Linked DNA regions of Homo sapiens. The protein of the gene in region 1 purifies or fractionates together with the protein of each later gene. This does not show direct contact. Each region holds a gene or a part of one and is shown on either strand. Other genes may lie near its edges. The genes, in order: RRM2B and INPPL1.

Region 1 (17,538 bases):
ATGAACTTCTTGGAAGAATTGTAAAACACTGATTCTCTTATTTTTAAAATAAAACTTTAGCAGATCTTGGGACACCTGTTTAAGGGAGGCAAAAACTTGCCAGGTTTAAGGTACAGCAGCTGAAGTGTTTAAGTGATCTGAGAAAGTGAAAAAGAACTAAGGTTTCTGTGCAATTTTTTTGTCATTCTGTACTTTCCCCTACTGCTAATGCCCTAAACCAATGCAAGTTGAGTACAGTAACAAGAGGGTCCCTGCCCTCCCACAGCTATGACTTTACCCTAAAAGCTTCACAGATATTCCAACTCTCACCACTCTTGGTCCATCCATGTGCTATCTGAAACTAGTTTATGTGCTCATTGTCTGACTTCCCCTAGTGACCCTACACAATAATAGCAGAGGCTATCAGAAACTCTATCCTTGTTCACTTCTCTTAAGCCCAGTGTGTACCACAATGCCTGGTCAAAAATCATTTATGAATCAGTAAATTATATAGTTCCCATGTCAGAAACGGAATCATTCAATTCCCTCTTTACCCCTAACATTCATATTAACCATCAAGCCCTACAGTTACTATATATTGAACTCTTGAGTTAATCTACTTCTCTCCACATCCACTATCATTACCTAACTTTGTCACCACCTTCTACCTAGATTATGTCAATAGCTTACTAACCAGTTTCTGTTTATTGTTTTGCTCCCTTTAATATGTAGAGGCAGAACAAGTTCTAAAATGCATATTAACCATTTTACTCACTCACCTGTTTAAAATACACTGACTTTCCACGGATGGCTATGTAAGATGAAGTTCAAACTCAACAAGGCCCTTCATGATTGGATCTTGCTTTACAGCCTTATATTTACTTACTATCTTGTTATACTGAAAGACTTGCAGTCCCCTGGTGGGTTATGACCTCTATCGCCTTGGAGCCTGTATAAATACTTGCTCCCTCTGACCTTACTGCCCACTCTTTATGGCCCCTCATCTTGGAATGGTTAGTTCCTATTCATAATTCAGAATCCGGTTTACCCACCTCTTTGAGGTGCTCTCCTTGACCTGCCCTCCACCCTCCACCTTGACAAAGCTGTTTTACTTTCTTTGTACTCCGTCTGAACAATGTATCTGCTTGATTTTCCCTTCTACTCTGTAAGTTCCTTTAGTGTAGGAACTCTGTCTCAATTACCTTTTTCTCTCCAGTGCCTGGTAGAATGTTAAATTTATTGAATGGATTCAAATGACCAACTTCAATCCAATTTAGGAACATACTATTGTAATCTGTTGTTTTTATCTCACCTGGAACTCTGCACCTTTGAAATGTTGTCTTATTATCCAACTCTATGACCCAAAACTCCTGTCCTTCCAATGCTCTCACACTTACGAGTAAAAGAAAGTTGTCTCACTTCTTTTCTTCTGCATTTAGCCTAGACATAGCAACTTATTCTGAAACAGTTAAGAGGGAAAATGTTCTTTGTACTGAACTCGAAATTTTTTAGAAAAAATCTATATTGCTTGTTGATTCTTTTGCAAAAACTGCTTTACTTACTATTAATGTGACGGGTTGCTAAGTATGGCTTTCAGGTTGTCACAGCTGGATCAGATCAATGGCTGAGCCAATCAGTTCTGAACCACATTACTAGAAACCCCCAGTTGGATCTCATGAGAATCATGATCTTGACATGTCCAAAACAACTCACTATTTTCCTACTAAGACTTCATGGGCAAAAGGCACTGCTAACTGCCTAGTCTCTGGATTAGAAACTTGTAGTCATTGCTGGGCGCAGTGGCTCACGCCTGTAATCCCACCACTTTGGGAGGCTGAGGCAGGCAGATCACCTGAGGCTGAGAATTCGAGACCAGCATGACCAACATGGAGAAACTAGTCTCTACTAAAAATACAAAAATTAGCCAGGCATGGTGGCGCATGCCTGTAATCCCAGCTACTTGAGAGGCTGAGGCAGGACAATCGCTTGAACTCAGGAGGCGGAGGTTGCAGTGAGCCGAGATCGTGCCATTATACTCCAGCCTGGGCAACAAGAACGAAACTCTATCTCAAAAAAAACAAACAAACAAAAAAAAAAAACTTGTAGTCATCCTAGAATCCTCCCTCTACCCTACACTCCATATCCAACCACTGATCAAGTCATCTTGAGTACATTTACTTAACTCACATGCACGGATTCTTCTTGCATTCCCCACCACCACTGCCTTATTTCAAGCTTGCTTTATCCTGTACTGGGCCTATTCCAACTAGCTCTAAACCAATCTAATTCCAAAATTTTCACCTTCCTTCACACTGGAGGCCTTCCTGAATTATAAATGAATGGCTCATTAAATATAGACCTGTTTAGTGATTTTCAAACTAGGGTTCAGGATCTGCCAATTTTCCACAAGCATCTTATTTTGATTCTTAATATATATATGCAGTATCTTGAATTACCTGGTTGACCATTTATGATGGCACTGATGTCAAATAATACATAAAAACTTAAAGAATGGAATTAAATATGTAAATGACACATTTGTTCCTTATGAAAGGCAACTGATAAAAAGAGTTGTAGAAAAAGTTATCCCATGGCTACGATGCAAAAAAACATGCTTCATTAATGGTCACTATAAAATTCACACTGATGCAATATAGTTTCAGCAAAGCAACATCATCATCCATTGCTTTTGGTTGTAAACTGGAATTTTACCATTTCTATAGTCTTGTTTGTATTTAATTTATAGATCTACTTTTAGTTGTGTAAAGCTCCAAGAATAAGGAGTTTATTACTGGTCTTAGGTTTGTACATACTTAAGTAACAATACATATGTAGTTTAAGTCAATATCAAAGTGGCTGTGAAAATTTTTTTATTTAAAAGGGGTTGAGGCCAGGCACGGTGGCTCACACCTGTAATCCCAGCACTTTGGGAGGCCAGGGCAGGCGGATCACTTGAGGTCAAGAATTTGAGACCAGCATGGCCAACATGGTGAAACTCCATCTCTACAAAAATACAAAAATTAGCTGGACATGGTGGTGTGTGCCTGTAGGCTCAGCTACTCAGGAGGCTGAGGCAGGAGAACCCCTTGTACCTGGGATGCAGAGACAGCAGTGAGCCGAGATCATGTCACTGCACTCCAGCCTGGGCGACAGAGTCAAGACTCTGTCTCAAAAAAAAAAAAAAAAAAGGGCAGGGGTGTTGAGACATCAAGTTTGAGAAATGAGGATTTACCCAGTAAATGACATACAATAAGACAGCAATAGCTTGAAATTACATATTTTCTATACAAAAGGCTAGCTTGTCTTCCTAGGCGATCACCACACAAATCTCTAAGTGGAATGGATGCTGGACCAGTTACTATGGCTGCATAACAAATTATCCCAAAATTGGTGGCTTAAAACAACCATTTGTTAGGCTCGTGGATTCTGTGGGTTAGGAATTTGCACAGAACCCAAGATGGTGTTTTTCCTGCTCCATAATTTCTGGGGTTTTCAACTGGAAGGCATGACAGCTAGGAGTTGGATTCCTCTGAAGGCTCATTCATTCACACATCTGGAGGTTGATGCTAGCTGTTGGCTGGTGCTTCAGTTGCTTTCCATGTGGACTTCCCATGTAGTCTCTCTGTGTGAGCTAGTTTTTGGCTTCCTTTAGCATGGTACCTAAGCTCCCAAGGAAAGTGCCCAAAAGAGAGACAACACCAAAGCTATCTGTAGTGTCCTTAATGAATGAGGCTTAAAAGTCATGCATCACTTAACAACAGGAATATGTTCTGAGAAATGTGTCATTAGATTATTTCATTGTTGTGCAAACATCATAGAGTGTATTTACACAAACCTAGATGGTAATGCCTACTATACACCTAGGCTGTATGTGGTATTGCTCCTAAGCTACAAACTTGTACAGCATGTTACTGTACTGAATATTGTAGGCAACTGAAACACAATTGTATTTGTGTATCTAAACATAGAAAAGGTACAGTAAAAATATGATATAAAAGGTTTTTTTAAAAAGGCACACTTGTATAGGGCAGTTACCATGAATGGAGATTGCAGGACTGGAAGTTGCTTTAAGTGAGTCAGTCAGTGAGTGAATGTGAAGGTTTAGAGTATTACTACACACTACTGTAGATGCCATAAATACTGCATACTTAGGCTACAAGAAACTTATGAAAAATATTTTTCTTTCTTCAATAAATTAGCCTTACCTTACTGTAACTGTATTTCAAAAACGTTTTAAATTTTTAAAGCTTTTTGACTCTTTTGTAATAACACTTAGCTTAAAACAGTGCATAGCTGCACAAAATTTTCTTTCTTTATATTCTTATTCTATAAACTCTTTCCTATTTTTTAAAATAATTTACTTTTTGAACTTTTTTTGTTAAAAACTAAGACACACACATGCATTAGTCTGTGCCTACACAGGGTCAGGATCATCAATATTACTGTTTTCCACCTCCACATCTTGTCCCACTGGAAGGTCTCCAGGGGCAATAAATACATGAAGCTGTCATTTCCTATGATAGCCATACCTTCTTCTGGAATACCTCCTGAAGGACCTGCCTGAAGCTATTTTACAGTTACTGATTTTTTTATATATATAATTAGAAGGAGTATACACTAAAATAATGATAACTATAGTAAATACATAAATCAGTAATATAGATTATCACTATCAAGTATTATGTAGTGTACATAATTATATAAGCTATACTTTACACACTGGCAGATTTGTTTACAGTAGCATCAACACAAACACATGAGTAATGTGTTGTGCTATGACTATAACGTCACTATGATAGGAACTTTTCAGCTCCATTATAATCTTATAGGACCACCACCATATATGGGGTCTATCATTGACCAAAATGTTACATGGCACTTGACTGTATCCTATTTGTTAGAAGTTAGTATTAATAGCCGGGTGCCGTGGCTCACGCCTGTAATGTCAGCACTTTGGGAGGCCGAGGCAGGTGAATCACGAGGTCAAGAGATCAAGATGATCCTTGCTAACACGGTGAAACCCCGTCTCTACTAAAAATTAAAAAAATTAGCTGGATGTGGTGGTACTCGCCTGTAATCCCAGCTATTCGGGAGGCTGAGGCAGCAGAATCACTTGAATCCGGAAGGCGGAGGTTGTAGTAAGCCGAGACCGTGCCACTGCACTCCAGCCTGGTGCCCGAGCGAGACTCTGTCTCAAACAAACAAACAAACAAACAAACAAACAAAAGTTAATATTGATGGCCTATATGCAAAGGGAAGTGCATTAGACACCACCTTTTAAGGGGAGGTGTATCCAAGTTCTGGAACAGCATATGGTACCAGAAATATTGTTGTGGCCATTTTTGGAAAATACAATATGCCATAAAGTCCATATGAAGATGCAGAATCCTCTTACTCCTTGAGATCTTTCAGTTACGCGTGTTATTTTTTTCCATTTGCTCTTCCAATAACTTTGAACATCCTGGGGGAAACTCACACTGCCTACACTATTCTGAGTACTGTGATGTTTTTGCTGTGTCATTTAAGAATATTCAATTCTGCCACAGAAATTGAGAGAAACTAAGTATGGGAGCAAATGGCTTGTTAGACATAATGAAATTTGTAAGATGTATTAAGTATAAATAATAAATAATTACACTGTGAGGCATGTTAAAAATAGGATGAATGGAACATATATGTATTGAACATACACAAAAATAATGGAACACATGAGAGTTCCACTTTTAGATTAAAAGGGCTAGAAGGACCAAGTAAATTTTTTTTTTTGAGACGGAGTTTCGCTCTTGTTGCCCAGGCTGGAGGGCAGTGGCACAATCTCAGCTCACCACAACTTCCGCCTCCCAGGTTCAAGCGATTGTTCTGCCTCAGCCTCCCGAGTAGCTGGGATTACACGCTTGCACCACCACGCCTGGCTAATTTTTTATTTTTAGTAGAGACAGGGTTTCTCCACGTTGGTCAGGCTGGTCTCGCACTCCCGACCTCAGGTGATCTGCCCACCTCGGCCTCCCAAAGTGCTGGGATTACAGGCGTGGGACACGGTGCCCAGCCCCAAATAAATCTTAAATATTCATAAGGTAATGATCATGTTACTGCCAGACTGACAACTATGTTATCCCTAAACCAGCCACTCACTGGTGAGATCCACTCTGGCCCCACACGTGCTCTGTCCAAGAAACACAGATACCATCCATAGCTGCTCAGTAGGTTAATTATAACTGGTTATAAATGCAGTTATAGCTGGAGTCAGGTTCCAGCAGTTCTCCAAAAGAAAAGTGTGTGCTGGCTCCACCTTCTACCTGCTGAGCAGTCTTGCTCATCCTCACTATGGTCCTCATAACTACACCACCAGCAAGGAAGTCTGATGCATCAAACAGTACACGAACAGTAACATTAAGATTCAGATGGTATAATCCTTCCACTCTCTCCCCTCCCCACATCCTAACCAAAATATGTTAGTCCACTCAATCTCTTTCCCCTTGCTGTTATGTTTTAAAATGATTTAATAGGGTACAGCTTGTGTGCTTGTTTGGCACAGAACTGGCACCTGTTTTGTGAAGTGGCAGCTAAGAAGACTCTGGCTGACAGAAAGCCCAAAGAAGGAGGCAAGATTGAGAACAACAATCCTATTAATTTGAAGGTGGCAGGGCAGAATGGGTCTGTGGTGCAGTTTAAGATTAAAAGGCATATTCCAGCCGGGCGCAGTGGCTCACACTTGTAATCCCAGCACTTTAGGAGGCCAAGGTGGGCGGATCACCTGAGGTCAGGAGCTCGAGACCAGCCTGGCCAACATGGTGAAACCCCGTCTCCACTAAAAAAAAATACAAGAATTAGCCAGGTGTGGTGGCAGGTGCTTGTAATCCCAGTTACTCGGGAAGCTGAGGCAGGAGAATCACTTGAACCTGGGAGACAGAGGCTGCAGTGAGCCGAGATCCCGCCACTGCACTCCAGCCTGGGTGACAGAATGAGACTCCGTCTTAAAAAAAAAAAAAAAAAGGTGTATACCACTTAGTAAATTAATGAAAGCCTATTGTGAACAGGGTTAGGCAATGAGGTTGATCAGATTCTAGACTTCATGTGCAACCAATCAATGAAATAGACACACCTGTAAAGTTGAAGATGGAGGCTAAAGATACAATTAATGTGTTCCAAGGACAGGAGGTTTTGACTAAAAATGGAGCCTGCTACTTTATTACAGAACTCTGTTCTTACGGACCAAGAATGCATTTTCAATTAGAAAACTGCGATTTGGTTCCATCACACCCTGACTACTACAGTATAGTTTTCTCTATCATTTTCCTCTTCCCCATTACTTTATTATATGTATATATTAGTTACAATGTAACTATGTAAACAATTAAATGTGTAACTGCAAGATCTCTAGGAGTAACAGAATTCTACATCTTCATATAGTCTTTATGGCATATTGTATATGCCATAGTTATAATGCATAAAAGCGTATTGCATTTTTTAACCAAATGGTCAATTTTTTTTTTTTTTTTTTGAGACGGGGTGTTGCTCTTGTTGCCCAGGCTGGAGTGCAGTGGCGCGATCTTGGCTCACCACAACCTCCGTCTCCCGGGTTCAAGTGATTCTCCTGCCTCAGCCTTCCGAGTAGCTGGGATTACAGGCATGCGCCACCGTGCCCGGCTAATTTTGTATTTTTTTAGTAGAGATGGGGTTTCTCCATGTTGGTCAGGCTGGTCTCGAACTCCCGACCTCAGGTGACCCACCCGCCTTGGCCTCCCAAAGTGCTGGGATTACAGGCGTGAGCCACTGCGCCTGGCCCCAATGTTATCTTTTGATCCGCATCAAATGAAGATAGGATGGGCGGAGAAATATGGTTTTGTGAAGACTCCCTTCTCCATTAATGCCATGCTCATTCAGGTCTTATCTTTATATTCCAGTTCGTTATTTTGCTCTGTTTTAACCAAAAAAACCCCACACACAAAACAAAACACCATAACAGTTTTTGCATATCTTCTTCAGTTGAAGAATTGTAATGTATTTTGTTTATGATTGTAAAGCCAAGGACAATTCTTTTTTTTTTTTTGAGACTGAGTTTTGCTCTTGTCATCAAGGCAGGAGTGCAATGGCACAATCTCAGCTCACTGTAACCTCTGCCTCCAGGATTCAAGCTATTCTCCTGCCTCAGCCTCTCAAGTAGCTAGAATTATAGGCATGCGCCAACACGCCCGGCTAATTTTTGTATTTTTAGTAGAGACGGGTTTTGCCATGTTGGTTAGGCTGGTCTCGAACTCCTGGCCTCAGGTGATCCACCCGCCTTGGCCTCCCAAAGTGCTGGGATTACAGGCGTGAGCCACCGTGCCGGCCTAGCCAAGACAATTTTATAACTCTTTGTACGTGGCTATTACATGTAAGGCAATCTTTCAGTAATGACACATTACTCTTAAAAAAAAATCCTAGTTTTCCTTTCAAGTCAAATGTCTTGTTTGAATAAACTTATTTAAAATGAAAATAAATTGATTTAATAAACTGTGTGACTCAGGCATCTCAATTTGATCTGAGCCTTTTGAACTCAGCCATCTGAGTTCCATGACCCTCTGGGATGGCCTGACTCGTACGTGGAAGCTACCATTGCATCAAGGTAATTTCCCACCCCAATAAGTGTTTTACAAGTAATATATTATTAAATTCACACAACAACCTTATGAGGAAGGGATTATTATTCTTATCCTGTAGATGAGAAAGCTGAGTCTCAGAGAGGTTAATTGACCCAAGGTAGCATAGCTAATAAGTGAGGGAACTAGAATTCATGCCCATGATGATATGACTTTTTCACCAAACTCATTCATGTTTGTATCTTGAATACCTAAACGTGATGCCCGACACACAATTATTGTTTGATGACTTTAATTGAATCTGATTATTTGCCACGTGGCCTATAGTAAATTGAGACTCAGTTGCCTAGCAGAATGTATGTGGCTATTATTTAAAGTTCACAGATGAAAAAAATTTCACTCAGCATTTGACCCCTAGTAGTTGCTTTAAGAAAGACTGTCTACCCCTACGCTATGGCAGGTTTGAGAAAGGGCTTTCAGCATTTTCAACGCTTAAAGTGAGATCTTGATCCTATTTACCATCCTTCAGCCAGCCACAAAACAGGTGCATGCTGTTCAGGTCATGGCAAGATCCCGTCAATCTTTCAGCTTCAAACTACTTAAACAAATCTCTCTTCCATTTTATTTTTGTTAGACCAAACTATTTTTTTCAAAATATATTTTTTTCAAAATATTTGCCTGACTTTAGTAACGTGTCCCTCTCCCCCTCACTCACCCGCATTCACACACACACACACACACTTTCCCCCAGACACTTCCCCTTTTCGGTTGTTTACGCACGAAACCAGCCAGCCCTTTCCCTAGCGAAGTGTTTGGCGGTGTAGCTGTCCCGTCCCCGGCGCTTCCCACAGCAACAGCGCGTTCTCTTCGCCTCCCGCAGTCTCTCAGGACAGGCCAGGCTAGCGCAAAGTACCGTGTTCCTGGAACACCACGAGGGCGAGCTCGGGAATCTCGAGCCGGCCTGCAGGACACCTGCCGCACCAAGTGGCTAGAGCCCGGGGAGGGCGAGGCGAGGTGGGACGAGGCGGGGTGGTGAGCGGGCCGGGAAGGCGAGGCCGCGCGGACTCTGGGATAGCTCCTCAGGAGTGGGCGCCCGGAGTGGGCGAGCGGAGGAGGCGGGGCCGATGAGGTGAGGTGGGGCCAGCTGGAGTAGGCTAAGCAGTCCAGAGCAGGGGGCGTCCCTCAGTGGAAAGCCGGGCGACTGGGCGGTGCAACAGAGTAAGGCGGGGCCAGCGGAAGCAGGGAGATTTCCTTAGGCCGCAGGCGGGGAAATGGGGCTGGCCGGGGTAGGCGGAGCCCCGAGGCAGGGGAGGCGTGGCTGGCAGAGGTAGGCGGTGCCCCAAGGCAGGCGGGGCTTGCCGAGACAGGGATAATCCCTTAGGCCACAGGCTGGGAGGCAGGGCAGGCCGAGGCGGGGAGGATCCCTTAGGCCGCAGTAGGGGAGGCGGGTCGGCCGAGGCGGGGAGAAACCCTTAGGCCGCAGGCGGGGAGGCGGGGCTGGCCGAAGTTAGGCGGAGCCCCGAGGCGGGGGAGGCGGGGCCGGGCCGGCGCAGGGAGAGTCACTCAATGGACAGGCGAGAAAGCAGGACCGGCGCGGCGGGGCGGGGCCGGCCGAGTCCCTAGAGCTGGGGGCGGGGCGGACCCAGCGGACCAGCGGACCACCTGGGTGCTGTCGTAGTTGGAGGTGGCCTGAGGAGCTCAGTTCCCTCAGCGCCCGTAGCTTCGGCGGAGTCTGCGCGATGGGCGACCCGGAAAGGCCGGAAGCGGCCGGGCTGGATCAGGATGAGGTAAATGTTGCTGTTGCGTCTTCCCCCTCACCGCAGTCACGCCAGCCCGTTAGATTGCAAGTTGCAGGACCGCTGTAGGAAATGTTATTCGCCGCGGTCAGGACAGGCCTGTCCGCCCGCCCTCGCCGCAGCCTGGCTTCGTCGTTGCGAGCGCCGGGGAGGCCGTCCCCGGGGAGGGCGGAGGAAGGAGCTGACTTTGGGTTTGCGTCCCGCTCGCTGCTCTGCCCCGGGGCCAGCCAAGGACGACGCTTGGAGGCCTCAGGCCGGGGTGAGACTTACCCCTGCGTTTATCCGCCTCACGCTCTCCCACCCTCCTTCCCTGTTTTGGAGCCCTGGCCAGGGAAACCGAGGCAAGGAAAGAGGACTGTGGCGGCTCTGCTGGAGAGGTGCATACCATTTGGGATGGTGACAAGGAGTTGGAGAACGCGTGTGGAAATTGACACAGGTGGCTGGGGTGAAGATGACAGGTAGAAGGGGACACGAAATCCTCATGACCTCCTCCCAGTGAAAAAATCAGGGTAGGAGGCCAGTTTTGCTCAGGCCCGGCTCCTTAACTAACTGAATCTTCGGGGTGTCACTTTCTTCCTTTATACAATGGAAGTGATACTTCAGAGAGAATTAAGTAAAATGCTTTATGCAAAGTGCCACGAAAATTGTAGGTGCTTAATAAGCCCAAGTTGTTCATCCAAGTTGTTTATGCTGATAAAAGTACCTAAAATAAATAAACCAGAATTTGTTAGACTGTAGGATTGTATGGTAGTTTAAACTGTTGCTGTATAATTTTCAAACACTGTCATTTTGCAAATACTTCTAAGCCCTTTGTGGACAAGAGAAATGCTTTTTGTACTACTGGAACCTGTTGCTGTGGTATCTTTGATTTAATACTGTGAAGATTTGGGGGAAACAAACGTTTCCACCCCAAGAGATTCATGCTTGGCCCTACATTTCTTTAGAAAGTTGTAGATTCCAGGTTTGAGATTTTATTTTATTTAACTTGATTTTTGTAAGCATTTAGTAACTAACTGTAAATATCCCTCAAGCTTTTTCTTCCTGTTTTGAAACAAATGCGTTTAGTACCAACTTCCCTACTCAAAGGGGAAAATTCAGACTGCTGTTTATGCTAATGGCACCAGCAGTGATTCAGGCTTAACACCTGGATATTACATTTTATTTATTACTCCTATCTCAATGATACAGACCCGCAAGGACAGACAGAATTTTAGATTCAGAATGAATTTTAGTGGTCCAAAAGTTTTTAACTTGAGATGCTGGGTTGCCTGAAGCACTTTGTTTTTCTAGATGCCAGAGTGCATAATAGGAGACCTGCATCAGAGTCACTTGGAGTATTTTGTAAAAAATGTAAATTGCTGGACCAACACCCCAAACATAGTGAATCAAAATCTCTTGAGATCTGCATTTTTAACAAGTACTTCAGGTGATCCTGGTACACATATTAAAACAAAAACAAAAAACCCCCCACTGTCTTAAAGGGTCCATAGATAGACTAGAAGGGGCTTTATAAATCTCCTGAAGTGATATGTAGATTTTGTATGTGCAGATGTGAATCTTCTGAGAAAGGGGTCCATAGTTATTGTCAATTTCTCAGAGTTAACTATTGCTAATCTAATTCATAGTCTATTGTCAAGGTAAAGTTTAGGCCAGAAAACATTAAATGGCATGCCCAGGACTCAGTAGAGGAGCTAAATTTAAAACCAAGTTCTTGCACCTGGGCGGGTATCCCATTGGTTCCGTCAGACTTTGTGGGAATAGAAGTGAAAATAATACTTACAAGTAGTGTATGACTATGACAACATACAGCTATTTTACAGAAGTAGAAGAGACATAAAGGCAAAGAAACGGAAGTGGTGGAATTGGGGCTGGATAGGAGGTAAGAGCCTGGTATGATGCCAGCCTAGATTGGGGCATCGTAAGTGCTTGCTGGGAAATCTTGACCTAAATTGTTGTCCTGACATGCCCAGGCATGTCTTCCAACTGGGTGACCAGAAATTGAGTCAGTCGGAAACTGGAAGTACCATTCTGGAAAAAACAGCAGAATGTCACTAAGGAATGCCTACTGCTAAACTTTATTTCAAATTCTCATCACTTTACACCTGTGCGGCTATAATAATTTTGTTGTTTCTCTATCTCCTATCTTACCTGCCATTCAATCCTAATTACCATTGCCAAGTTAATCCTTCATTAGACCAGTGCCTCAGTGTCACTGACCCTGTGTCCCCCAAAAAACTCCCAAAAGAGTCTCAATTCCTACCAAAAAGCCTGGCCAACACCTCAGGCTGGTGAAGTCTTGTTGAAGCTGCTTTTTTCATGCTAACTGCCACATCTTAATTCAAGTCCTCATTTCCATCTTTGAAATTGGTTCCTTAGTTGCTTGCAAAATCTAGTTTTTTATCAATTAATCCTATACGTGGTTTTCTGATTAGTCTTCCTAATGCCACCTCTATTCATGTTAATTCCCATTCAGAAACTCTCCATGACTATTTGTACCCCCAAATCTGTGGGGTACAGATTTTCAAACTGTACCCTGCTATGAACGCCAGCACCTGGGGTTGGGGGCAAATGGGGAGAATTGGAGTATGAGCCTTCTAGACCTCCGATGTTTGAAGATCTTTGGCCACAAAATTGATTCCTAACCTCTTAGTCTGATTTATCTTAAGAGTCTAGATCCTTTGCTTTAGCCAAATCACATCATTCCTACTTTTGCTTTTCCTTGTCCTGCATCCATTTCAGCCTGTTTTAATCTCAGCTGGCTTCTCTTCTTTCATCTGCCCTTTAAATATCAGCATTCTCTAAGACTGTATCCTCAGTTGTCTTGCTGCTCTATATGTTCTCTCTGGATAATCACATCCATTCCCTTGGCAACCACTAATGGGATCTCCATCACTCGTGTTCTGCAGTGTTATATTTTTAACTGCTTACTGGACATCTTGAAACTGAATTCATTATCTTTTCTATTCTTTTTTTTTTGAGACGGAGTCTCACTCTGTCACCAGGCTGGAGTACATACAGTGGCACAATCTCGGCTCACTGCAACCTCTGCCTCTTGGGTTCAAGTGATTCTCCTGCCTCAGCCTCCCGAGTAGTTGGGAGTACAGGCGTACGCCACCACGCCCGGCTAATTTTTGTATTTTTAGTAGAGACGGGGTTTCACCATGTTGGCCAGGATGGTCTCAATCTCTTGACCTTGTGATCCGCCCGCCTCGGCCTCCGAAAGTGCTGGGATTACAGGCGTGAGGCACCACGCCGGGCCTGAATTCATTATCTCTTCTAATGACCTAGTTGACTTTGTGAGGATATTGTGTTTGTAACTTTGTTGTTGTCGCCTGGCTTGGTGGGAGGAGTTAAATTAAACTTCCGTTAAACATCTAATGTGAGAAGCAAAATTTTTGTCTGATTTATTTATTTATTCTCCAGGTACTGAGCACCTTGTGTGTGCCTTTTAGATCTTGTTATCACCCAGTTACTGGAGCTGGAAACATCAAGGGCATCTTTAACTGTTCTTGCCCCTTGTCCCAAATTCAAATTTTTAGGAAGAATAATTCATTCTACTTCTGAATATCACTTAAATCAATTTTTGTGTGTGTTTCTAGTTCAGGCAAGAGATGGGTAGTACAATAATCTTTTCATTGTTCTTTCTGCCTCTAATTTCTCTTCTAATCTAGCAATGTTTCTAGAAAAGCGATCTTAAAAGATATATCTGATTATGTTATTTGCCTTATTAAAAACCTTCAGTGGCTCCCAATAGCATACATCTTAGAGTTATTAGATGCCAAAGTGTTTTATATCAAAGCAGACCACTTTAACCTCCAAAATTTTTTAAAAATCAGATTACTACTAACCAATTTTGCTCTTTTATTAACCCTGTAAAAATATAGATACCCATGAGCTTTGAAATTTCTATGTCTAGTAGGCTGCTCTCTCATGCACCCATATATTTCTTTTTGTTTTGTTTTGTTTTTTGAGATGGAGTCTTGCTCTGTCACCAGGCCTGAGTGCAGTGGCGTGATCTCAGCTCACTGCAATCTCTGCCTTCTGGGTTCAAGTGATTCTCCTGCCTCAGCCTCCCGAGTAGCTGGGACTACAGGTACGCGCCACCACACCCAGCTAATTTTTGTATTTTTAGTAGTGACAGGGTTTCACCATGTTGGCCAGGATGGTCTCGATCTCTTGACCTTATGATCCGCCCGCCTCGGCCTCCCAAAGTGCTGGGATTACAGGCGTGAGCCACCGCGCCCTGCCCATCATATCTTTTTTCACATTTTTTTTTTCTTCTAAAATATGGGTTCTTAGATTAGGTCCACAGAGGGTACTGTGGAGAGCCTAGAGTTTCAAGATGCATGAACTTTCTGAAATTGTATTCAAATGTATGTTTGTGCACGTTTCTAAGCATTATGAAATAATACGTCATCTCTAGCCCAGCTCAAAGGTTGATGTTGGTTAACCTCCTTCTCTTCACATTGCAAAATCCCTCATAATACACTCCTAATCCAGCTACTCCTCTTAATAGTCTACAGGTTATCAGGATAGAACAGGAGAATGTGTATACAAATGTGACTTTCATTCTAACTTAAAGGTACTAGTCTTCAGCAGATCAGTTATTTATCATCATTTAAAAACTTCATTCATCGTCAGGGCATTTGGTGCTGAAGAGTGACTGCTTGTGATGTCCTTCCCAACTTCCAGTAACAAAAGTATAGAAGTTCCCAACTTTCATACTTTGAGTATATCCCAAATTTCAGTAATAAAAATAACAAAGGCCAGGAGTTTGAGACCAGCCGGGGCAACATAGCATGACCCCCATCTCTACAAAAAATTTAAAAATTATCCAGGTGTGGTGACGTGTGCACATAGTCCTAGCTACTTGGGAGGCTGAGACAGGAGGATTGCTTGAGCACAGGAGTTTGAGACTGCAGTGATCTATGATCACACTACTCTGATCTATGCACTCTAGCCTGGGTGACGGAGCAAGACCCAGTCTTAAAAAAAAATTGCTCAAATATTTGTGGAATGAGTACCAACTAAGTGCCAGGTACTGTGCTAAGCACAAGGGATTCTACAAGGGTGAAAATGGATTTTACTTTCAAGAAGCACAGGAAATTAGAGACAATTAACAGGGAATTAAATTGCAGTGAGCTATGTACTTATATCTGGAACCTAACCCAGACCTTTGGGGTGATGTGAAGAGGGGAAAATGTGATTGATTTTAATGGTTATTGGGTTGTCTCACTGATGTATTGTGGTCCTATGTTAAATTAAAATTTTCTAAAGGTACCTAGAAATCTGAGTACAGGAAGAAGAGAAATTAGCAGCCCATTTACTTAGCTAACATGCTTGACACGATACTAAGCTCTGGGAACATCACAACAAATAAAAATTGGTTCCTCTTCTCCAGGGCTCAAGTGCTGTATCTGAGGAGGCCCATACCTTTAAACAAGTAGTTAAAATCAAGACCATCTGTACTGTGATGGCAGTAGGTATAAAGCACGCAAGCCCCCCTGTATTTGCATAGCCGTATGCTTGTATTTTGGGCTTTCTTCTTGCTAAGCCTTAGCCTCCTCTGCTATAACAGTTGCTTTGGCGAGGTGACAATGGGTGGACGCTGGAGTAAGGAACATAACGGGCCTGTCACAGTAGAGAGAGAGACAGTTTTGGATAGGAGTCTAGAAGTTGTATGTGTTCTAATCCTGGTTTATACACGTTTAGCTTATTTGTATGTCCTTTGTTTATACTCATTCTCACACATGTGCGACTCTTCTGATTCTCTTCTGATGTTCCCGCTATTTTAAAAATATATGCATGGCACCATTTGCTCTTAGAGTGCCATCGTGTTTTGAAGCAGTGTGAATACAGGTATGTGTTTCTCACTTTATTCACAAAGCTTTGAGACAGCCCACAGTGAGATCATATGCAGTAATGTTAGAATGTAAATAGCAGTAACAAATTGGAGTATCAGAAGGCTAAGATGAACAAAGGTTAAGTTGTAGGTAATGAGTTTTCAGATAAGTATTATATTATTTCAGTGAAGAGTAGAAAGAAAAAACATTAAAGTAGCTTATACCAGTAGCTTATTCATTCCAGCAATCTTATCAGAGAGGCTCTAAAGGGACATTTTGTTCACAAACTTAGAAATTTGCCCATCATGATGACATTTATGGGTCTAGCTTTGTACTTATCCTCAAACTAGCAATAATTACAATAATTTTTGAGTGCTTACTATATACCAGGCTTTGTTTAAAGCACTTTTAATCATCAGAATAAACCTATGAGGTAGGAATTATTTTACAGCTGAGGAGACTGAGGGTTAGAGAAGTTAAGCAGCTTTCTATGGTCACACACGCACTTCCTAACAGTATTAGTCAGCTACCAGGTAACAGTAAGGATTCAACCCAGGCAGACAGGCTCTCAAACCAATGCCGTCTCCCTGACTTCCTTAGATGTATGTTTAGGTATGAATAAAGAAGAAATGTCTATATAAAAGGCGTGTTTGTACTTTATTTTTCAAAGAGATCATCTTCAGACACCAACGAAAGTGAAATAAAGTCAAATGAAGAGCCACTCCTAAGAAAGAGTTCTCGCCGGTTTGTCATCTTTCCAATCCAGTACCCTGATATTTGGAAAATGTATAAACAGGCACAGGCTTCCTTCTGGACAGCAGAAGAGGTACGTGGCATTGCCTCCAAGAGCATTCACATCCTATAGTGCAGTGTTCCTTCTTGTTTTACAGGATATTGAATAACTTTAACTTATACATTGAAGAAGATCAGTTGTAGAAGATAAGTGTTGGAATTACTGAGACTAAATATGATGTTCTCAATGTTTTAGTTTAGATTACTATCTATAAACAAGTTTTCTGCTGCAACAATGGCATCTAATTCTGCCAGATTTTTATTTCCAATATATTAGAACATTTTTTTTCTTTTTCTTTTTTTTTTTTTTTTTTGAGACAGAGTCTCACTCTGTCACCCAGGCTAGAGTGCAGTGGCGCGATCTCAGCTCACTGCAAACTCCACCTCCCGGGTTCAAGCGATTCTCCTGCCTCAGCTTCCTGAGTAGTTGGGATTACAGGCGCCAGCCACCACGCCCAGCTAATTTTTGTATTTTTAGTAGAGATGGGGTTTCACCACATTGGCCAGGCTGGTCTCAAACTCCTGACCTTGTGATCCACCTGCCTCAGC
Region 2 (8,244 bases), on another chromosome or scaffold:
GGGCATGGGCATGAGTGAGGATAAAGGCGTTTGCTTTATTTTGGGAGTGTGGAACCTTGTTGCAGTTTGTTCATTCATTCAGGAGATGCTTCTTGAGCTTTTGCTAGATGTCAGGTCCTGTGTTAGCTATTGAGAAAATTAATTAGTTACAGTGATGCTAGGTGCTGTAAAAGGCCTGTATAGGGCTGTGTCTTCTGCATTAAGGATTTGGCTCTTCTCTGAAGAGTTGAGTGTGAGTGAGCACAGATGACCTGAGGGTGGGGATTGAGTGGTGTCAGGGGGCAGCGCGTAGGAGGGGCAGGAGGAAGTGGCGGGGCTTTGTTCCTCACTGGGCCTCCCTGCTTCCCAGCTCAAACCAATTCTGGCTGATATCGAGTACCTGCAGGACCAGCACCTCCTGCTCACAGTCAAGTCCATGGATGGCTATGAATCCTATGGTGAGGGGTGAGGGGTGCTGAGGGGAACAGGAAGCCAGACAGGGCCCTAGATTAGCTTGGTAATTTGCTGGTTTGTCCCATCTGCTCCTCAGGGGAGTGTGTGGTTGCACTCAAATCCATGATCGGCAGCACGGCCCAACAGTTCCTGACCTTCCTATCCCACCGTGGCGAGGAGACAGGCAATATCAGAGGCTCCATGAAGGTGCGGGTGCCCACGGAGCGCCTGGGCACCCGTGAGCGGCTCTACGGTGGGGACTCCACTGGGACATGAGATAGGGTGGTGTGAACAGATCAAGGAGGGCAGGGTGCGGGGGGCATGTTGGAATCTCTGGGATACCTGGAGGTTCTGCAGCCACAGCTGGGAATAGTCCTGCCCCAAGGCATAGCTGGGAAAGGGCTGGCAGGCCCACTGGGTGTCTGTGGGATCCAGGAGCCCAGGTCTCCTCTGAGTCTCCCTTCCTGCCCCCTCAGAGTGGATCAGCATTGATAAGGATGAGGCAGGAGCAAAGAGCAAAGCCCCCTCTGTGTCCCGAGGGAGCCAGGAGCCCAGGTGAGCTAGGGCTGTGTTGAATGTCATATGAAAGGGTACCTGGGGGCATCTGGTCAACCCCACTTCATCTCTCTCCTGTGCATCCCTGGCAGGTCAGGGAGCCGCAAGCCAGCCTTCACAGAGGCCTCCTGCCCGCTCTCCAGGTTATTTGAAGAACCAGAGAAACCGCCACCAACGGGGAGGCCCCCAGCCCCACCCCGAGCAGCTCCCCGGGAGGAGCCCTTGACCCCCAGGTGAGAGGAGGAACCTGTCACCGCCCCCCCTTCCCCCACCCACCTCTATCCATCACTATCCCCTGCAGGGTCTCAGGGTTGGCCTGGAGATCATCAGCTGCTTAGGTGCCCTGCCACTCTGTGGTTGGAGCTGCCATGGCCTTATGCCTGTGGCCAGCCAGGCCACCCTTAGCTGTGGCTCTGAGTCAAAGGGAGCAGTCAGCCTTTCCTCTCAATTCTGCCTTTAAAAATGGAATGCGAAATTGTTTCTAAGACAGCTCCCTCCATGTAAACAGACCTAGCTTGAGCCTTCTATTTGGAGGAGGCACATGGCTCGGCCTGGGATTTCCCAGGGTACCTTCTTTGGAACTCTGTCCTGCAAGAGGCCCCAGTTGAAATGGGTTTGTGGTCAAATGAGTTTGGGAAATGCTTTTTCTAGATTCTTTTCTTAGACATTCCCAGTGCATGTTAGTATTAGCAAAAGCTCTGAGCATGTGGACAGGAAGGAAACCTCTTTTCAGCTCTGTTTAATATAGTTTCCCAAACTTAATGGGCCAGGAAACTTATTTTCCATGTAGTAACTATTAACGTTCTGGGGAATTAGTGCTCTGTGTCACACTTTGGGAAAGTGAGGCTTGCTTTCTAATTATATCCGATTGTTGCTTAAACTTACATAAACTCCTAGGTACAGTTTGGTGCTTTTTCACTCATCTTCAGCTGTTGTCAGTCACCCCGGTTTTATCCCTAGGCTTGAATAAGACCCACCTGAATCTCTGAGAAAGATTCTGCAGCGGATTGACTGTGGGTGCCTCAAGAGGCTTTCCAAACCTGGCCTCTCATTGGAGGCTTCTTGCCCTGTCTTCTGGCACCTCTATTCTGACCCATTTAGCTTGGGTTTCACAGCTACAGATAAAGTCATGAAAGATCTAAGTATCTTAGCAAGTGAGGCAAGGGATTGTAGGGTTATCCATTCAAAGGGTTATCCTCCCTCTGACCTTTAGAGATGAAGAAACTAAGGGCAGGTGATGTGCTCAAGGTCATGAGAAAGTCTAGGACCAGGGGACTTTCTGACTCCCGTCTAGTTCTCCTTCCACTGCTTCCACTGCCTTAGACCTGGGTTCCTGGATCCTGGCTTAGTCGTTCTGCTTCCACACCCAGGTTGAAGCCAGAGGGAGCTCCTGAACCAGAAGGGGTGGCGGCCCCCCCACCCAAGAACAGCTTCAATAACCCTGCCTACTACGTCCTTGAAGGGGTCCCGCACCAGCTGCTGCCCCCGGAGCCACCCTCGCCTGCCAGGGCCCCTGTCCCATCTGCCACCAAGAACAAAGTGGCCATTACAGTGCCTGCTCCACAGCTTGGGCACCACCGGCACCCTCGTGTGGGAGAGGGGAGTTCTTCAGATGAGGAGTCTGGAGGCACACTGCCCCCTCCAGACTTTCCACCTCCACCACTGCCGGACTCAGCCATCTTCCTGCCCCCCAGCCTGGATCCTTTACCAGGGCCAGTGGTCCGGGGCCGTGGTGGGGCTGAGGCCCGTGGCCCACCACCTCCCAAGGCCCATCCAAGGCCTCCACTGCCCCCAGGCCCCTCACCAGCCAGCACTTTCCTGGGGGAAGTGGCCAGTGGGGATGACCGGTCCTGCTCGGTGCTGCAGATGGCCAAGACGCTGAGCGAGGTGGACTATGCCCCTGCTGGGCCTGCACGCTCAGCGCTCCTCCCAGGCCCCCTGGAGCTGCAGCCCCCCCGGGGACTGCCCTCGGACTATGGCCGGCCCCTCAGCTTCCCTCCACCCCGCATCCGGGAGAGCATCCAGGAAGACCTGGCAGAGGAGGTGTGTGGAGCAGGGTGGCTGTCTGTGTGTGCCTGAGTGTGCTTGCCCACAGACTGGTACCCTTTCACTCCACCATTCAGCACTCATGGTGTCCCTGCTACCCTGAACTGATCACTGGGAAGTTGGGAGACACATGTATCAGCCCAGCCCTTCCCTTCCTTTTCCCCAGAGCATGCAGCAGAATGTGACTGCAGGTGTTTCTATGGGGGGCACTCAGCTCCCCCTGACATGCCCTGTTTCCTTAGGCTCCGTGCCTGCAGGGCGGGCGGGCCAGCGGGCTGGGCGAGGCAGGCATGAGTGCCTGGCTGCGGGCCATCGGCTTGGAGCGCTATGAGGAGGGCCTGGTGCATAATGGCTGGGACGACCTGGAGTTTCTCAGGTGGGGGAGGGGCTGGCCCCGGGGGCGGAGCTGGGGCCCTCAGGATCCCCTTGCCCATCTCACTTCCCAGCCTGTTTTACTCCACAGTGACATCACCGAGGAGGACTTGGAGGAGGCTGGGGTGCAGGACCCGGCTCACAAGCGCCTCCTTCTGGACACCCTGCAGCTCAGCAAGTGATAGCGGAGGCACCACGAAGCTGTGAACTCAGAGCCCCTCCCTGCTACCAAGGCCCAGCTATGGCCCCAGGGTTGAAAAGTTATGAGGGTCAGGGCAGTATCTCTCTGCCTATTTATTGGGGTGCCTATTTATTGGGGATCTGCATTCCCCGCTGCCCAATCATTTGCAATGCCCTAATTAGGGCATCCTGCCCCTCGCCTTTTAGGCTCAGGACGGAAGGTCAGTTGCCATGGTTACCGAGGACCCTGGTTACTCTGGTGCTGTCCTGTTTTACTGGACCCCGCCTCCCAGCCCCAGGGGTGCCTGTGGGGGTCCATTTGGGTACGTCTGGGCCCCCACTTTCACCAGTTTCTGCGGCCTTCCACCGGGCCTGAACCACAGCGGAGGAGCTCCGCTAAGACCTCCCCACCCCCGCTGGGGGTGGGGGCGGGTGTCCGTCCGGAAATGAAGGAATAGCCCGAGGACCGGGCTGGGGTTTATTTAAACTGTTCTGTGTGGGTCTGGGGAGGGAGAGCACCTTAATATTATTGGGGTTGGTTGGGGTGGGGCAGGATCTCAGCCATAAAGTGCCAGTTTGCTTAGTTCTCACTGTCTCCTGGTCTGTGCTGCCCTGCTCTGGGGATGCACGGCGGCAGGGTGGGGGAGGGAGGTTCCTCGCAGGTCTCAGCCCGGGACAGGGTCTTGCAAGCAGCCTCCTGGGCAGTCGTAAGGGTTGCGGCGTGATGTCTTCAATAAATTAAGTTTTATTTGGATTGAGTAAAACTTCAATAAATTACAAGTTTTTCAAAGAAAAAGGACAACCAAAAAAATTAGGGAAAGAGAATCCCTCTGTCCCATTCCCCAGGCAGCCCCTCCACTCCTCTAACAGGTCCACCCTCTGTGCCAGACGGGCTAGGGAAGAGAGGAGACACGTGAGGGATGAATTGGCGGTGGTCATTAATTATCCCGGCGACCACCAGCCTCTGTACGGGTGGGCCCGAGGGGTGGGGCAGCGGGCTTTCCTGATCACCAGCGTAAGGGGTGACCCAGCCGCTGCAGAGCCAGGGAAGGGGGCTGTGCCGATCCTCCTTGAGGACCTTCACTTTGAGGGCACTGTTAGGGACAGGCCTCATGTGATACCGCATCCAAAGAAGGCCAAGCTAGAAGGAGCTCCGGGGTTCTCCTGGAGGAGGTCCCGGTATAAAGAACTCCGCTCTGCTGGTAGAGGGTGGGTGAGGACGAGAGTGGCCCTGACTTGGTCTCCAAAGTTGGGGAGGACACACCGAGGGGTGAGACAGTAGGGAGTGGAGACGGATGGGGACTTCCAGGCGGGTGGCCAGGATGGGAGGGGCTGTCAGGTCCTGGAGGGGCAGGGACGTCTCTGGGGGCAGGCTCGGAGCCTCCAGAGGCCGGCAGCTAGAAGAGATTGGTCTTCAGGGCGGGGCCGGGCTTCCGGTGAAAGGAGGACAGAACCCCGGAGAAGGGCCCGGGGCCGGACTCCGCCGGCTGCCAAGCCTTAAGTAGTTCGGCCGCTCCCGCGCCAGGCCCGCCGCCCCCACCGCCCGCCACACCGGCCCACAGTGCGCCCTTGAGCGGCTGTGGCCCCGGCCCAGGTCCCGGCCCGGAGCCCAGTGCGACGGGCAGCGGGCTGGGGCTCAGGCGCGGGCTGGCCAGGCCGGGCGCAGGCGGCGGCGGCAGCGAGGCGGTGCTATCGGGCGTGGGGCTGCACGTGGACTCCTTGGAATCGTCGTCCTCGGAGGAGCAGCGCGCCTCGCCCTTTTTGGCGCCCGCCGCGCCCGCCGCGCCCTTGGCGCTGGCCGCGCGCTCCTGTTTGCGGAACTTGGCCCGGCGGTTCTGGAACCAGACCTGCGGGCACAGGGGCCAGTCAGCCTGGACGAGGGTCGGAGAACGCACGGGGTCAGCCCGCGGCCGCAAGGCTCGAGTGAGATCCTGGTTCGGAAAGAACCGGGCCCGGGTTCTTACTAGTTGGAGGGGCCTTCGGCCCTCCGCACGCAGCCCGCTGCACTCCGCGCTCCACTGGCCCCTGCCTCCAGATCCCTGGGTTCTTGCCCTTGGGATCCACTCACCCGCTGACTCTGCTGCCTCCCAGCACTCTTGGTCTCCCGGAGGGGACCCTGCCTTCGTTCTCCTCACTCTAAGTTCTTCCCCCAATTCCTTCTTTTAGGAAGCTCTGGGACTTCCCTCCTGGAGTGTTCCAGGGCCGTGGAGAGCAGTTTAGGGCGCCAGTAAACCTTTTGTCTAGGGCATCCAGTCAAGGCGGGCCAACTGAACATCTGTACACGGAGTTGTACAAATAGACAACAGTCTGCTCTAGCCCGGCTCTCTTCGGCCCTGTGCCTGCCACAAACTCAGCCTCCCGGGCTCCGGGTTTTCAAAGCTGCAGCGCCGGGGTAGGGAACCCCAGGGGTGCTGACTGGCCTGCCCCCTCTCCTCCTCAGCTCGGCCCTGAGGTCCCCTGGGTCTCCCCCTCTAGCCCCTCGGCCTCCCTCCTGGCTTCTCAAGCATCACTCGGAACTTTCTGCCCTAAGAGGGAGACAGAGCGGAGGTAGCCTGGAGCTAAACAGATCGGGTCTCCCAAGGGCCTCCAAGTCCGGGCCCTGCTGCCTCCCGTAGCTGCCCAAGCACCCTGGGACCGCGCCCTGCCTTCGGGCTGCATCTGCCTGTATTCCCCTACCCCCAGGTGTTAGACATTAAGCTCCCACACCTCCTTCCATGCGCACTCTCGTACACACACGTGCATACACGCACCTGCACGCGAGCCTCAGTGAGGTCGATCTTGAGCGCCAGCTCCTCACGCGTGTAAATGTCGGGGTAGTGGGTCTCAGCGAAAACGCGCTCCAGCTCCTTGAGCTGCGCGCTGGTGAACGTGGTGCGGATGCGCCGCTGCTTGCGCTTCTCGTGCAGGCCGGATGGCTCTGGGAAGAACTTGTAGGGCACTGCGGGTGTGTGCAGGGGGGCCGGGGGGGGGGCAAAAAGGATGGGGGAGTGAGAAGCAGAGTTCAACCCGTTGTGTCCAGCTCCGGGGGAATCACACGCCTCCCCCGTCCCTGGCCTGATCCCTCGTCTTGGTCCCGGCAGCCTGGGGCCGAGCGTCCTCCCTATTACTCAATGGAGCCGGCGGGATAAAGGCGGAGGGAGATCAGGGAGACCTGAGCCCCAAGAGCGGCCAAGGGGAAAGCATAATCCAATACTCCAGCCAAGACACTCCCTCCCCCACCCCACCCCCGTCGTCGCCCTCCTCCCAAGCCCTGTTCCCTCCATCTCCCCCTGCACCCCCATTCAACCGTGCCTCCGACCCTTCCCTCCTGTCTGTCTCTCAGCCCGTCTGTCCCCTCTGTCTACCCTGGCCCTGGATGTCTGTCAGGTCTCATCAGCATTGCCAGTCTTCCCACTAACCAGTTCTGGGCCAAGGCTCTGCAACAGAGACCCTCCCACCGGCCCTCCTTTCAGCCCTACCACCAGCCTTCCCACCGGCTCTCAGCTGTATACAGATTTGGCTCCCTCCACCCATCCACCTCTCCCCTTCCCAAGCCTCATTTCTTCAATTCTGCCCCACTCCCCTGACCCCCATTCTCCCCTAGATGTCCCCCTCTCCTCTTCCTAATCTTCCTCCATTTGAATCTCTCTTCAACTTTCCATTTCTCAGCCACTCTTCTCTTTGTGCCCATTGAGAAGACTTCCTCCATCTTCTCTTTGCGCCCATTGAGAAGACTTCCTCCATCTTCTCTTTGCCCTCCTTCTTCCTCCCCAGGCACCTTCTCCATGTCCCATCTCCTCCAAAGCCAACACTGCCCCCCAACTCTCTTCCTATACCCATCCCAGTCTCCACTGCCCCATAGGTAGTGTTTCTGACAGTACTTCCCTTCCCTGTCTGTAACCCTGGTTTAAGTCTTCATATTCACCAGGGGTCTCCAATCTCATCTTTGTCCCATCCAGGCCTCCATCTCCCCTGATTCTTGTCTCCAGCACCCCATTTGTATTCTTATCTTCGTCATCTCTATTTCTAATCTTCTTTGGTCCCCATCGCCTGATACTTATCTCTATCTCCCCAACCCTGAGTCCCCATTTCTCCTAGGATTTCCAGTGCTTCCATCTCTGCTCCCATCTCTCTGTACCTTATCCCCATCTCTCTGGTCTCAAAACCCTGTATCTCTGGAGGCTGTCTCCCCTCTTCCCAATCCCTACCCTCATCTGGCTCAGGGTACCCAATCTCCCCACCCTGGGCCTCATTTCTCCAAATCCAGGTTCTCATTTCTCGTATCTCTTCCCCAAACCCCAGCCTAGGGCCCAGTCTTCTTCTTCTTCTTCTTCTTTTTTTTTTGAGACCGAGTCTCATTCTGTCACCCAGGCTGGAATGCAATGGCACAGTCTCAGCTCACTGCAACCTCTGCCTCCCAGGTTCAAGCGATTCTCCTGCCTCAGACTCCCAAGTAGCTGGGATTACAGGCGTGGGCCACCATGCCCAGCTAATTTTTTTTTTTTTTTGTATTTTTAATGGAGATGGGGTTTCACCATGTTGGTTAGGCTGGTCTTGAACTCTTGACCTCAAGTGATCCACCCGCCTTGGCCTCCCAAAGTGCTGGGATTACAGGCATGAGCCACCGCGCCTGGCCCTTAGGCCCCAGTCTTCTACTTGGGTCCCCGGCAGTCTTCCCAG

Evidence for each region.
Region 2: the proteins of RRM2B (region 1) and INPPL1 purify together in Homo sapiens (affinity purification with mass spectrometry; 3 studies listed by BioGRID and IntAct, with this or other methods). This does not show direct contact.

The regions. Positions count from the first base shown.
Region 1 is NC_000008.11:102,231,634-102,249,171, reverse strand, and holds the start of RRM2B (ribonucleoside-diphosphate reductase subunit M2 B), read left to right. Parts: upstream 1-10,210; 5' UTR 10,211-10,297; coding exon 10,298-10,345; exon of another isoform or gene 10,346-10,349; coding exon of another isoform or gene 10,350-10,613; intron 10,614-16,867; coding exon 16,868-17,023; intron 17,024-17,538.
Region 2 is NC_000011.10:72,234,767-72,243,010, forward strand, and holds the end of INPPL1 (phosphatidylinositol 3,4,5-trisphosphate 5-phosphatase 2), read left to right. Parts: intron 1-349; coding exon 350-437; intron 438-529; coding exon 530-685; intron 686-908; coding exon 909-987; intron 988-1,079; coding exon 1,080-1,220; intron 1,221-2,357; coding exon 2,358-3,030; intron 3,031-3,275; coding exon 3,276-3,409; intron 3,410-3,496; coding exon 3,497-3,587; 3' UTR 3,588-4,381; downstream 4,382-8,244. Other genes in the region: PHOX2A (paired mesoderm homeobox protein 2A), read right to left, coding at 4,983-5,516, 6,336-6,523. UniProt on the Homo sapiens protein: Phosphatidylinositol (PtdIns) phosphatase that specifically hydrolyzes the 5-phosphate of phosphatidylinositol-3,4,5-trisphosphate (PtdIns(3,4,5)P3) to produce PtdIns(3,4)P2, thereby negatively regulating the PI3K (phosphoinositide 3-kinase) pathways.